Regions from separate parts of the Homo sapiens genome. Here region 1 is linked to region 2. Evidence: fine-mapped expression QTL. Tissue or cell type: pancreas. Region 2 holds a variant in brackets; the other region holds the start of a gene. All regions are shown on one strand. Distances are from middle to middle. Region 1 holds the start of MIPOL1 (mirror-image polydactyly 1). Region 2 overlaps SLC25A21 (solute carrier family 25 member 21).

Region 1 (5,388 bases), 32 kb after region 2:
CAACTCTATTTTTAAAAAAGACCTTTCATAATCTCTCCAACTTCATTTCCCACCACTTTCCATGTTAAATTTTATACTGTGATATTAAATTGCTTATAGCTCCTTACAGTATCTCACTCCCATATTGATTCCTTTATAAGGAATTCTGTTTTCTCTGCACCTCCACCCTCACCTCTTCACCTTGCTAAGTCTTATTCATACTACAGGAGGCATTATCTCCTTCAGATTTTCCTGACTCTGTCTTCCTCATCCCCTGAACTCCCCTCTCCCAAAGCCATTTCTCAGTTTACACAGTGTGATGGTTAATTTTGTCAACTTGGCTGGGCCATGGTGCACAGATATTTGGTGAAACGTTATCCTGGATGCTTCTGTGAAGGTGTTTTTTTGATGAGATTACCATTTAAATCACCAGACTTTGAATACAACAGATTACATTCCATGTATGTCCAACTACAATTCTTTTCTGAGGCTTGCCCGCCTCTTCCCTCAGATTTTGGACTCACTAAAAGTCCACAACTGCATGAGCCATTTCCTTACAATAAATCACTGTCCCTCTCTCTATGTAGTCTCTGTGTATACACACATATCCTGTTTGTTCTGTTTCTCTGGAGAACCCTGATTAATACATATGGTATTCTCAGCTACTTGTGTGCCTAATTGTTATTCATTATTTTATTTGCAGAACTGATCAGTGTGTGACACACTGCAGAAGCCTAATATTTATAGACTTGAGAATATTAATGATCTGACATTAACAGACTTGATAATATTAATAATATGACATTCTTTTTCTCCCTGTAACGAAAGAGTGGTTCATTTTCTTCTTCTCATCTTCATCCATATTTCTGTAAAAGTCCAGCTTGTATGAGGTATGAGGACATAGACAATATCTTTGATAATCATTTTGAGAAAAGAAAAAAGCTCTAATTTATCTCTTTCATTTCTTATAGACAGGCAACTGTTAGAACAATAGAAAATGAAGAAATGGATATGTTGGTTATGGTGGTGGTGGAGGGGAGTAGGGGAAAACTTACCTGTTGTGGTATCAAAAGTTTAGGGAAAGAACATTAATGAGTTACTTCAGGTATGTTAGGGAAAAAGGAAAAAGAATAGGGAGAATTAGTCCTAATGTTTGAACTCACTGCATAAAACAGAGAGAGAGAGAGAGAAAATCAGCTTACTAAAAGGAAAGAAAATATGAGGTTTCTCTTTATGCCAGAGACTGTAAGCACCCAGATAATGGGCTTTAAAAAAAGGAGGAAATGAACTTTACTCAATGAAAAATATTATAATTTTTCTCTAAATTTATTCTACTAATTCATTACATGGTTTGAATGTTCTCATTGTGGTAGTCACTATCCTGTTTTATTTATTATTTCCTAGCCAGGAAAATCAACTTTTTCCTTTGTTTTACACATAATTTGATTTGGCCCTAAGCCTTTGCACAAGCTATATACTTCCTGATTGGAGTATTTGCTCTGATAAACTGTACACTCTTTGTTTTTGTCTCATAGATTTTTATGGTACTTTATGTTCATAAATATGATTCAAATCCTGACTGAAGTAAAGCAAAAAAGAAAAAAGCATTTCAAAGCTGAATCTGTAACAAACTTCTTGAGAACACTGTTCATTACAGCATACATAACGAAAATTTGGTGAATATTATAACCTCTGTTGTTCCAAGTTAATCTACGTCCAACTTTTCCATTTTGTTAGTTTTCACAGCGTCATGCTCTGTCCCCCAGGCTGGGGTGCAGTGGCGCCAGCCATCGTAGCTTATTTCAGTCTCCACCTCTGGGGCTCAAGCGATTCTCCCACCTCATCCTCCCTAGTAGCTGGGACTACGGGTATGCACCATCATGCCCAGCTAATTTTTTTGATTTTTAATAAAGTCAAGGTCTCGCCATGTTGTCCAGGCTGGTCTCGAACTCCTGGGCTCAAGCGATCCCACTGCCTCAGCCTTCCAAAGTGTTGGGACTACAGGCGTAAGCCACCGCGCCCGGCCTTTTTCAGTTTTTTAAACTCTCTTTTGTACACTTACTAAAGGATAAGTTCCTTTCATTAACTTTAACCACAAATTTAGGAACCCGTCAGCACCTCATATTATGCCTATTCTCTGGGGTGTATTAAAAAATATTATTGCTTATTACTCAGCACCCAGAAGAGTACCTGGCACATGGTATGTGGTCACTAAGTATTTGGTGTCTGAAGGAATCATGAGTAACAGGAGTTAAAGTGACATTTATAAAACCAATTCTGAACTATGGAACAAAAAACCCAAATTTAAATTACTAGCAGTTAATTATACCATTCTTAGTTCACGGAGGTAGGCCAATTGAAAACTTTGGACATTTTTAAATTCTGTAAGGTTTAACATTTTTTCTTAGAGGATTCACATATCGTAATCTCATCCAGCACTTCAGTCAAAAAAAAAAAAAAAAAAAAAAGTCACCAGCTCCAAGGTTTTAGTGTGAAACGTTCTTTGGCCAGGATCTAGATAGTACTTTTGCTCACTCAACCGGAGCCCGATCTGGTGCCATTTTCACTTGACCGCCGCTTCGAAACACGTCCCTCCCACCTCTCATCCCAAACCACACACAAAGAAGGAAAGCACAATTTCGACAGGTCTTGGGAAAACTCGACGAGGCCAAGTATGAGGCCACAAGACACCGTTTTTAGTTCCGCGTTCTCCCTCTTCTAATCCTATTAGGTTTTGTCCAGACAACGTTTTGCTCTTTCAGAAGAGAAAGAGCGTTCTGCGCTCGTCGTCTTGGATTCGACAACCATAAGCATCCCGTTAGGGCAACCACCGCAGCAGACTAAGTTCGACTACTTTCTCTCCAAACTCCTCCCGGGCCTTCTTCCCAAGCTCTCTCTTTCTCCTGGAGGCCCCGCCTCGCGGCCCGGCAGCGCGGCACGCGCATGCCCGGTGCTCGCCGCTTGCGCTCTCCCCTGCGGCGCGCCGCCGCCCCGTAGGCCCCACGCGCCGCCCCGCTCCTCCGCCGGATCGTCTGTGGGTGAGTCTCGAGCCAGGAGGCTCTGAGCCAGTGGCGATTGGCTGACGCGGTGGCTGCGCACTCGGCCTGAGAAACTCGGCAAGCGCGCAGTGTCGACTCCCCGGTCTATGCCAGGCGCATCTCAGGTAAACGGTTGGGCAGGGAGGTTTGGGCGACGGAGAATGATAGTGGTGGGCACAGATCAGCCCTGGAGTTTTCGGCCGCAGACTTTTCCTTGGAGAAGGAGAAGGGGCCCCGCGGAATCTGTACTTAGTGAATGCTGACCCCGCGTGGCCGGGAGTGATGGGGCTCTCTCGAAGGTCAGTGTCGTGGGGTCCTCAGGTGGCAGACAGCTCTTTCTGGGTATGGTTTTGGTATTGTCTCCAGTTTCCTAATACTGGACCTGAGCAGCTGAGCATTTATTCAAGGGTGTATTTTTTTTGTTTTTTTCCCCTTAAGTCGCGGTTAGTCAGAAGGTTCCAGTCCTCGCTCAACCTCTGATCGACTCTGTGCCCATGAGAGAGTCGTTTTATATTTCATTTCTCACACGTGGAAGTGTGGGCGAAGAATGAGGGGCTTCTTTAAGCGCGCTAAGCCATGCTGTAAAAAGATACTGTTAGAATTTTTTTTTTTCTTTTTTGATTCACAATGTCCCTGGACCTGGTGCAACGTTTGGGAAGCATTTTAAGCTCTATGGATGGAGGGAACAAGACAGCCGCATTATTAGACAAGGATGGTAGAAAGGAACAACTTTCCACAAACACACGCGTTTGGAAAAGCTCCTTTGAGCATTTTATGCAGGTTAAATCACAGTGGTAGTAGATAGAAATAAGCCAAAACAAAGGGCCAAACAAAACTACATTTCAAGGAGGTGTTCTTTTCTTCCCCAGATAACTTGAATATACTATCACAAATTATTGGCGTTTCAAAGTTTTTCCTTGTGATCTGGTATGGAGTTCATCTAAAATGACAATTACATAATCATTCTATGCAATCGTATGCCAATAAAATTAATTAAAACAGTTTAATTTTTAATGTGAGGAATAGGAATCAAGACATGTCATTGATGGGAGGTAATGATGGCAATCAGCAAAATGAATGGGAGATGTATACAATTTTCCTTCAAAGGAGTAGAGTTTATAGAGATATTTTTATTGCGTTAATATTTAAAGTATAAAGACATACAGAAAAGTGCATGAATCGTAAGTGTACAGCTCGGTGAATTTTCACAAAGTGTAAATACCCATGTATCCAGTATCTAGATCAGGAAAGAGCATTATTGCATCCCGGAAGCCCCACTTCATGGTTCCAAAGGTAATCATTATCTGGACTTCCAACATTATCAATGAATTTCACCTATTATTTACTTTATATAAATGGAGTAATATGGTATTTAGTCCTTAGTTTCTGATTTTTGCTCAATATTTTATTTGTGAGATTTATTCAAGTTATGTAGCAGTTTGTTATTCTCATGCTGTATGTATAGTATTTCTAGTTTTTGGCTATTACCAATAGGGCTGCTATAAAGATTTTTAGAAATATTTTGATGAAATTATGTATACTTTTTTTTTTCTTCTTTTTTTTGAGATGGAGTCTCGCTCTGCCGCCAAGGCTGGAGTGCAGTGGCGCGATCTCGGCTTACTGCAACCTCCGCCTCCCGGGATCAAGCAATTCTCCTGTCTCAGCCTCCCGAGTAGCTGGGACTACAGGTGCCTACCACCACGCCTGGCTAAGTTTTGTATTTTTAGTAAAGACGGGGTTTCACCTTGTTGGTCAGGCTGGTCTCAAACTCCTGACCTCAGCTGATCCACCTGCCTCAGCATCCCAGAGTGCTGGGATTACAGGTGTGAACCATCGCGCCTGGCCATATGTACATTTTTATTGCGTATATGCCTACTAGAAAATTACTGTGTTACAGGATAGGCAGATGTGTGTTTGTGGTATACACTACTGAAAAGTTTTTCATATTGTGTCAATTTATACTTCAGTGGCAGCTTGAGAATTCTGGTTCCTCCAAATGCTTGCAACATTTCACACTGTCTTTTTCATTTTAGCCATTCTAGTAGGAATATAGTGACATAACATTGGGGTTTTCCCATAATTTCCCTAATGACTGATGGTATTGAACACATATTCATGTGTTTACTGGCATTTGGATATCCTCTATTTCTGTAAGGGACCAGACAATAAGTGTAGGCAGCCCTCGCTTTGTAGAGTTTCAGCTAACCAAGTAATGTGTGAAGCTCGGACTACCTGTATTTTAGGTTGTACAGGCTGTACAGTCTCTGTTACACATTCTTTTCTGTTTTTTTCCTCTTTACTTTGTTCCCAACCCTTTAAATATGTAAAAACAATTCTTAGCTCATGGGTTATACAAAAACAGTTGTTAAAA
Region 2 (5,388 bases):
ACTGGGTATATACCCAAAGGACTATAAATCATGCTGCTATAAAGACACATGCACATGTATGTTTATTGCAGCACTATTCACAATAGCAAAGACTTGGAACCAACCCAAATGTCCAACAATGATAGACTGGATTAAGAAAATGTGGCACATATACACCATGGAATACTATGCAGCCATAAGAAATGATAAGTTCATGTCCTTTGTAGGGACATGGATGAAATTGGAAATCATCATTCTCAGTAAACTATCACAAGAACAAAAAACCAAACACCGCATATTCTCACTCATAGGTGGGAATTGAACAATGAGAACACATGGACACAGGAAGGGGAACATCACACTCTGGGGACAGTTGTGGGGTGGGGGGATGGGGGAGGGATAGCATTAGGAGATATACCTAATGCTAGATGACGAGTTAGTGGGTGCAGCGCACCAGCATGGCACATGTATACATATGTAACTAACCTGCACATTGTGCACATGTACCCTAAAACTTAAAGTATAATAATAATAAATAAATAAATAAATAAATAAAAAGAAATTTCTGTTGTTTATGCTGCCCAGTTTGTGGTGCATTTTTCTGGTAACCCCAGCAAATTTATATAAGGACTACAGATAATAATGAAAAAATACATATCTGATAGAATATTTACAATGTGTATAAACCATGATAACATCAAAGTGTCAAAATAATTGACACAAACATAATAAAAGATATTAATCACTTGGAAAATAACTATCTTCCAATTTAGATACAATAACAATATGAGAATGAAAACAAAAAAAGGAAATTGGTAAGAAAAATCGATCAAAATCTAGTACAACTGTAAAAATACTGCACCTTTAACCTGGTTCCTTTCATTCATTGCCATTTTAAAGATACCACCAGGGAAGGGTGAGTTGGGAGGAGTGGGGAGGATGAATAAAAGTGGGTTAAAGTGTATAAACATACAGGAAGAGAGAAGGAATAAATTCAATGTTTGATAGCAGAGTAGAATGATAACACTTTAAAATGTATAAATCATTTATACAGTATTGTTGTAAGTATTATCTAATGACTAGAATCCCTGAATATTTTTCTGTCTTCAGAGTAGGAACCTAAGAATATTCTATGGCTTAGACTTTTCATATTTATTTGTTAATATGATCAACAAACATTTCTGAGCCCCTACTTGCTATACTCTGAAACACCTGGTTCTCAATACCCTAAGAAGCTGTAGTCAAGGCTGGGGGCAAAAGGGAGGTGAGGAAGGGCTGGTTTAACCACATGTTTTTAAAATATTGTATAAAAGTTGTTTTAAGTTTTATGTCAGTTGAATCATATAGCCACATATTAAGGGTAGTTACACTTTTAAAACATCTTTCAGGAAGGTAGAGTAAAATAAGAAATCCTTTAAAATGTGGTATGCAACTCATATTTTGTTTGTTCTTAAATTCTGATTTTTGAGAACTAGATTTTCTTAAAGAGAGACAAGATTACATTTTACTTAAAATACATCCTTTAAAGGTATTTTATAATTAATTCGAGCAATAGGGTTGCTTCCTCCTATGTGCTTGAAATAAGGGTTATTTTTTTCTCCCTAATTACCCAGATAATGGGTTCCAGCCACCCTTTGATGTGTCATAAAGGCTCACCTGTTTCAGTACAACCTGCTATTTATTATCAAACAATTACAGTTTCCCAAATCCTGAATTTCCAAAGGTGCCATTTATCCAAATCACACGTGCATCCCCTTTGCACCATTTTGCAAAAGAATTTTCCTTGATCAAAATTTTAACCTTGATTACCCCCTGGTGTATCAGCCCTTTTATTACGTAGTTCAAATTAAAATCCAAAGGACTTCTAGTATACATACTATTAAGGCATCTATTTTAACTGTATTTTAACTATTAGAGTAAGAAAAAGGAGTAATCTTGTGAAAATGAAGATATGTAAGAAATTTGAAAACATCCTATATCTTTTTATTAGCCTTTTCAGGTTAAAAGCCTTGGACTCTCTCCCTATTAAAATATCACAGCATTTGCATATACTCTCAGATAATTAATCTCCCAAAAGCCTATTCATTAATTCCAGATTTCCCTCCCTCAAAAAAGTCTTTCATTTCACTCTTATTTGACTCTTTGAAGGTGATTAATGAGATAACACTACACAAAGTACTTGAACTGTGTTTAGTGCAAGATTGGAAAACTTGTTTCCAGAAAACTTTGAACTAAAACAATGAATTTAAATGAAAGCAATGAACTGCAGGGAGATGCACAAAGTAAAAACAGAGTAATTGATGGAGATGTGCTTATAAGCACCAGGGACTGGCTGGGTGCAGTGGCTCACGCCTGTAATCCCAGCACTTTGGGAGGCTGTGGCGGGCGGATCACTTGAGGTCAGGAGTTTGAGACCAACCTGGCCAACATGGCGAAACCTCATCTCTACTAAAAATACAAAAATTAGCCAGGCATGGTGGTGGGTGCCTATAATCCCAGCTACTCAGAAGGCTGAGGCAAAAGAATCGCTTGAACCTAGAAGGCTGAGGTTGCAGTGAGCCAAGATTGCGCCACTGTACTCCAGCCTGAGTGACAAAG[T/C]GAGACTCCGTCTCAAAAAAAAAAAAGATACCAGGGACTAAGGTAAGGCTGGAAAGGATGAAACAGCAACCTGGAAATTTTGGAAAATAAGTCAGTCTTGCCAGGATGGTGATCTCACATGCATGATATATAGAAGGTGATAATGCTGTAGAAGGCATTCAGAGTGGGACTGGCAGACTTTGGGGAATATGAGTAAAAGATTCTGGGAGGCAGGAGGAGGGTCCTGGAGTTGCCACTATGGAAGAAAATTCAGTGTGGACAAGGCTTAGGAGTGACCTCAGGAGGAAGCCTGACAGGTCCTAGTAAGAGCAGGACCACTCAGGGGGCTAAGATAACATTGTCACAGACCCTGGGAGGTTCTGAGGTTGGGTACAAAATCCCTGTGAGAGTCTGGGGAGAATGACCATCTGAGTGGGCCTGATCTTATATGACATGGGAAATAAGAACTACCCCGTGGTCTTTGGGAACACAGGGAAGGGTCCAAACTGATCATTAGGAAGAATGGGAAAGTCTGAGATGGACCCATGCTCCTAGCTCCAAGTTAGAGTTGATCAAGTACATGACAGGGGAGCCTCCTAGAGCCCTGTTGATATGCAGACAGAGTAATGATGTCATATGCAGGGGCTGCTGAGACCAGAGATCTTGGGATCCCTAACATGTTTAGGGGAATTCTGTCAGACCTTATGTCAATCCATTTGGTGTCTTTGTGAGAAACAGAAAAAGGTGTCCCTTCCCCCAAGTGAACACGTCTGTTCTAGGATGCACAAATCACGGAGCAGAGCATGTGCTAGATTTCAATTCCTACTTGCTCTCATGTCCAGATCCCTTTTTCAGTCCACAATGTGTCCAACTACATGTAGAGGCCCTGAATGGATGGAGAAGTAAAATAACTAAATTTTCTCTTGGCTAAAGGATAATGTTTGCCTAGATAGATGAAATGATTTGGAGTGAGCAAGGTACTACTTAATGGAAAGTCTGTATGGATTGTATTTGTAGGTAAAACAGTTATTTTAAGGAATATAAACTAATTACAGCTACAGCGATTATAAGAGTAGACTTGACTTCGTCTTTCCAACTCCTATAGAAATGGTTGCATGTATGTGCAACTATGGCATGTTCATTATTCCCCTGCGCATCAGTTTCTTCGTCTGTAAGTGGGGATTATTATAGTGCTTGCCTTGTGAAGTTGTGGAAAGGATTAAAAGTGTTAACACATGTAAAGCTTAGAACTGGATCCGGCATTTAGTATTTACTCAATAAATATTAGCTTATTTTATTATTTGCATCATTCATATGCTAATGAAAATGTTAAAGCTGGGTGGACTGTAGAGTCCATCTTGGAAACACTTATGCAGAAAATCATTTTCAATCTGGGCCTTGGAAAATGGATGGAATTTCAATAGGTAGAGATATATCTTCTTGATGAAGCTAGGAAAGTTCTTTGTAGGTGTTTTGAAGCCATTAGGCAAACAATTAGTGAGAGGAAATATTTGTATTTTATTTGGCACAATATCTCACCAGTTACCTTCTAATCCTGCTATATATTCTAACAGGGATCGAAAGCCTCTAGTCTTTCAGTTAAGAAAACCTGATGAATCAGATTGTTCCCTTATCTCCATACAAATAAAAATATTAGCTTCAAAAAAGAAAAAAAGTAAGGGGTAAGACATTCTAGGGGATCAGGAATAAAGGTGTAAAGTACTGGTAACAGTCAAGAATTGCCGGCAGACCTGTTCAGCAGAAACTGAACAAAATGTGTAGGAGAGGGTTGAAAAATAAGACTGAAAGCTAAATTGAGGGCATATAACAGGGAGTATGAAATTCATTCTTCTGTCTGGTCAGCAGTGAAAACCAAGAAAGATTTCACTTGCGCAATTTGGCTTTGACCTTCCCCCTCTATAGAGTCTTTTTTTCTCAAAGGTCTTCTACACAGTGCTTCTAAACTTTAAAGTGCAAATCAATGACTTGGGGCCCTTCCAAAAACGCAGATTCCGATATGGTAGTGAAACTGCCATTGCAAAATTGTAACTGAGACAGTGAAATAAATCTGACCTAAGCAACTCCATCTTGCTTCTAACCTCCAAGCTGTCCTTGTTCATTCCTGGGTATAGGCCAAACTAACTTTGGGAGGAACTTCATTTATAGTTTACAGTTTAAAACAAAGATGGTAACAGCCCTTTCCCAAGACAGAACCCCTTCTTGCCTGGAGACTAGACTGCCTTTGTGGGACTAACAAATTAGCCAAAAGATTAGAAATTATGGTTTAGGAGTCATGCAGCTGGAGGTTACAAGATTCTGACCCTTCCCAAGTCGCTCCTGGGGATAACATCACTATTGTGAAGCCTAAGATCAGGGCTTGAGATATTTTGCAGACCCTGCGTTTGATGGATCAGCTGGCATCACCTAGATCTAACTGGTTCTTGTGATCTTGTGGCCCCCACCCAGGAACTGACTCAGCATAAGACAGCTTCGACTCCCTATGATTTCATCTCCGACCTGACCAATCAGCACTCCTGACTCTCTAGCTGCACCGCTCCCCCCACCCCCTAATGCTTGGGGAGACTGATTTGAGTAACAATAAAACTCCAGTCTCCCACACAGCTGGCTCTGAGTGAATTACTCTTTCTCTATTGCAATTCTCTTGTCTTGATAAATCCGCTCGGTCTAGGCAGCAGGCAAGGTGAACCTGCTGGGGCAGTTACAGTAGGTGAGGCCTGGGATCCCACATTTTCAACAAACTTCCAGATGCTACCATACTCCTTCCTGCAGCTCATCCATAGACCATATTTTGAGTACCAAGGGTCTGATCCA

Evidence for each region.
Region 1: MIPOL1 starts here. The variant in region 2 is fine-mapped to the expression of MIPOL1 in pancreas (GTEx, PIP above 0.99).

Annotation. Positions count from the first base shown.
Region 1 is chr14:37,194,963-37,200,350 of GRCh38, forward strand. It overlaps MIPOL1 (mirror-image polydactyly 1), which reads left to right and starts at 2,975. Exons shown (of 13, transcript NM_001388067.1): 1 at 2,975-3,142.
Region 2 is chr14:37,162,786-37,168,173 of GRCh38, forward strand. All of the region lies in intron 1 of SLC25A21 (solute carrier family 25 member 21), which reads right to left. Among named protein-coding and RNA genes, the nearest start is that of SLC25A21-AS1, 6.5 kb to the right of the region's middle. RefSeq lists an enhancer at 4,910-5,388. The variant T/C (reference allele first, on the strand shown) is at 2,578.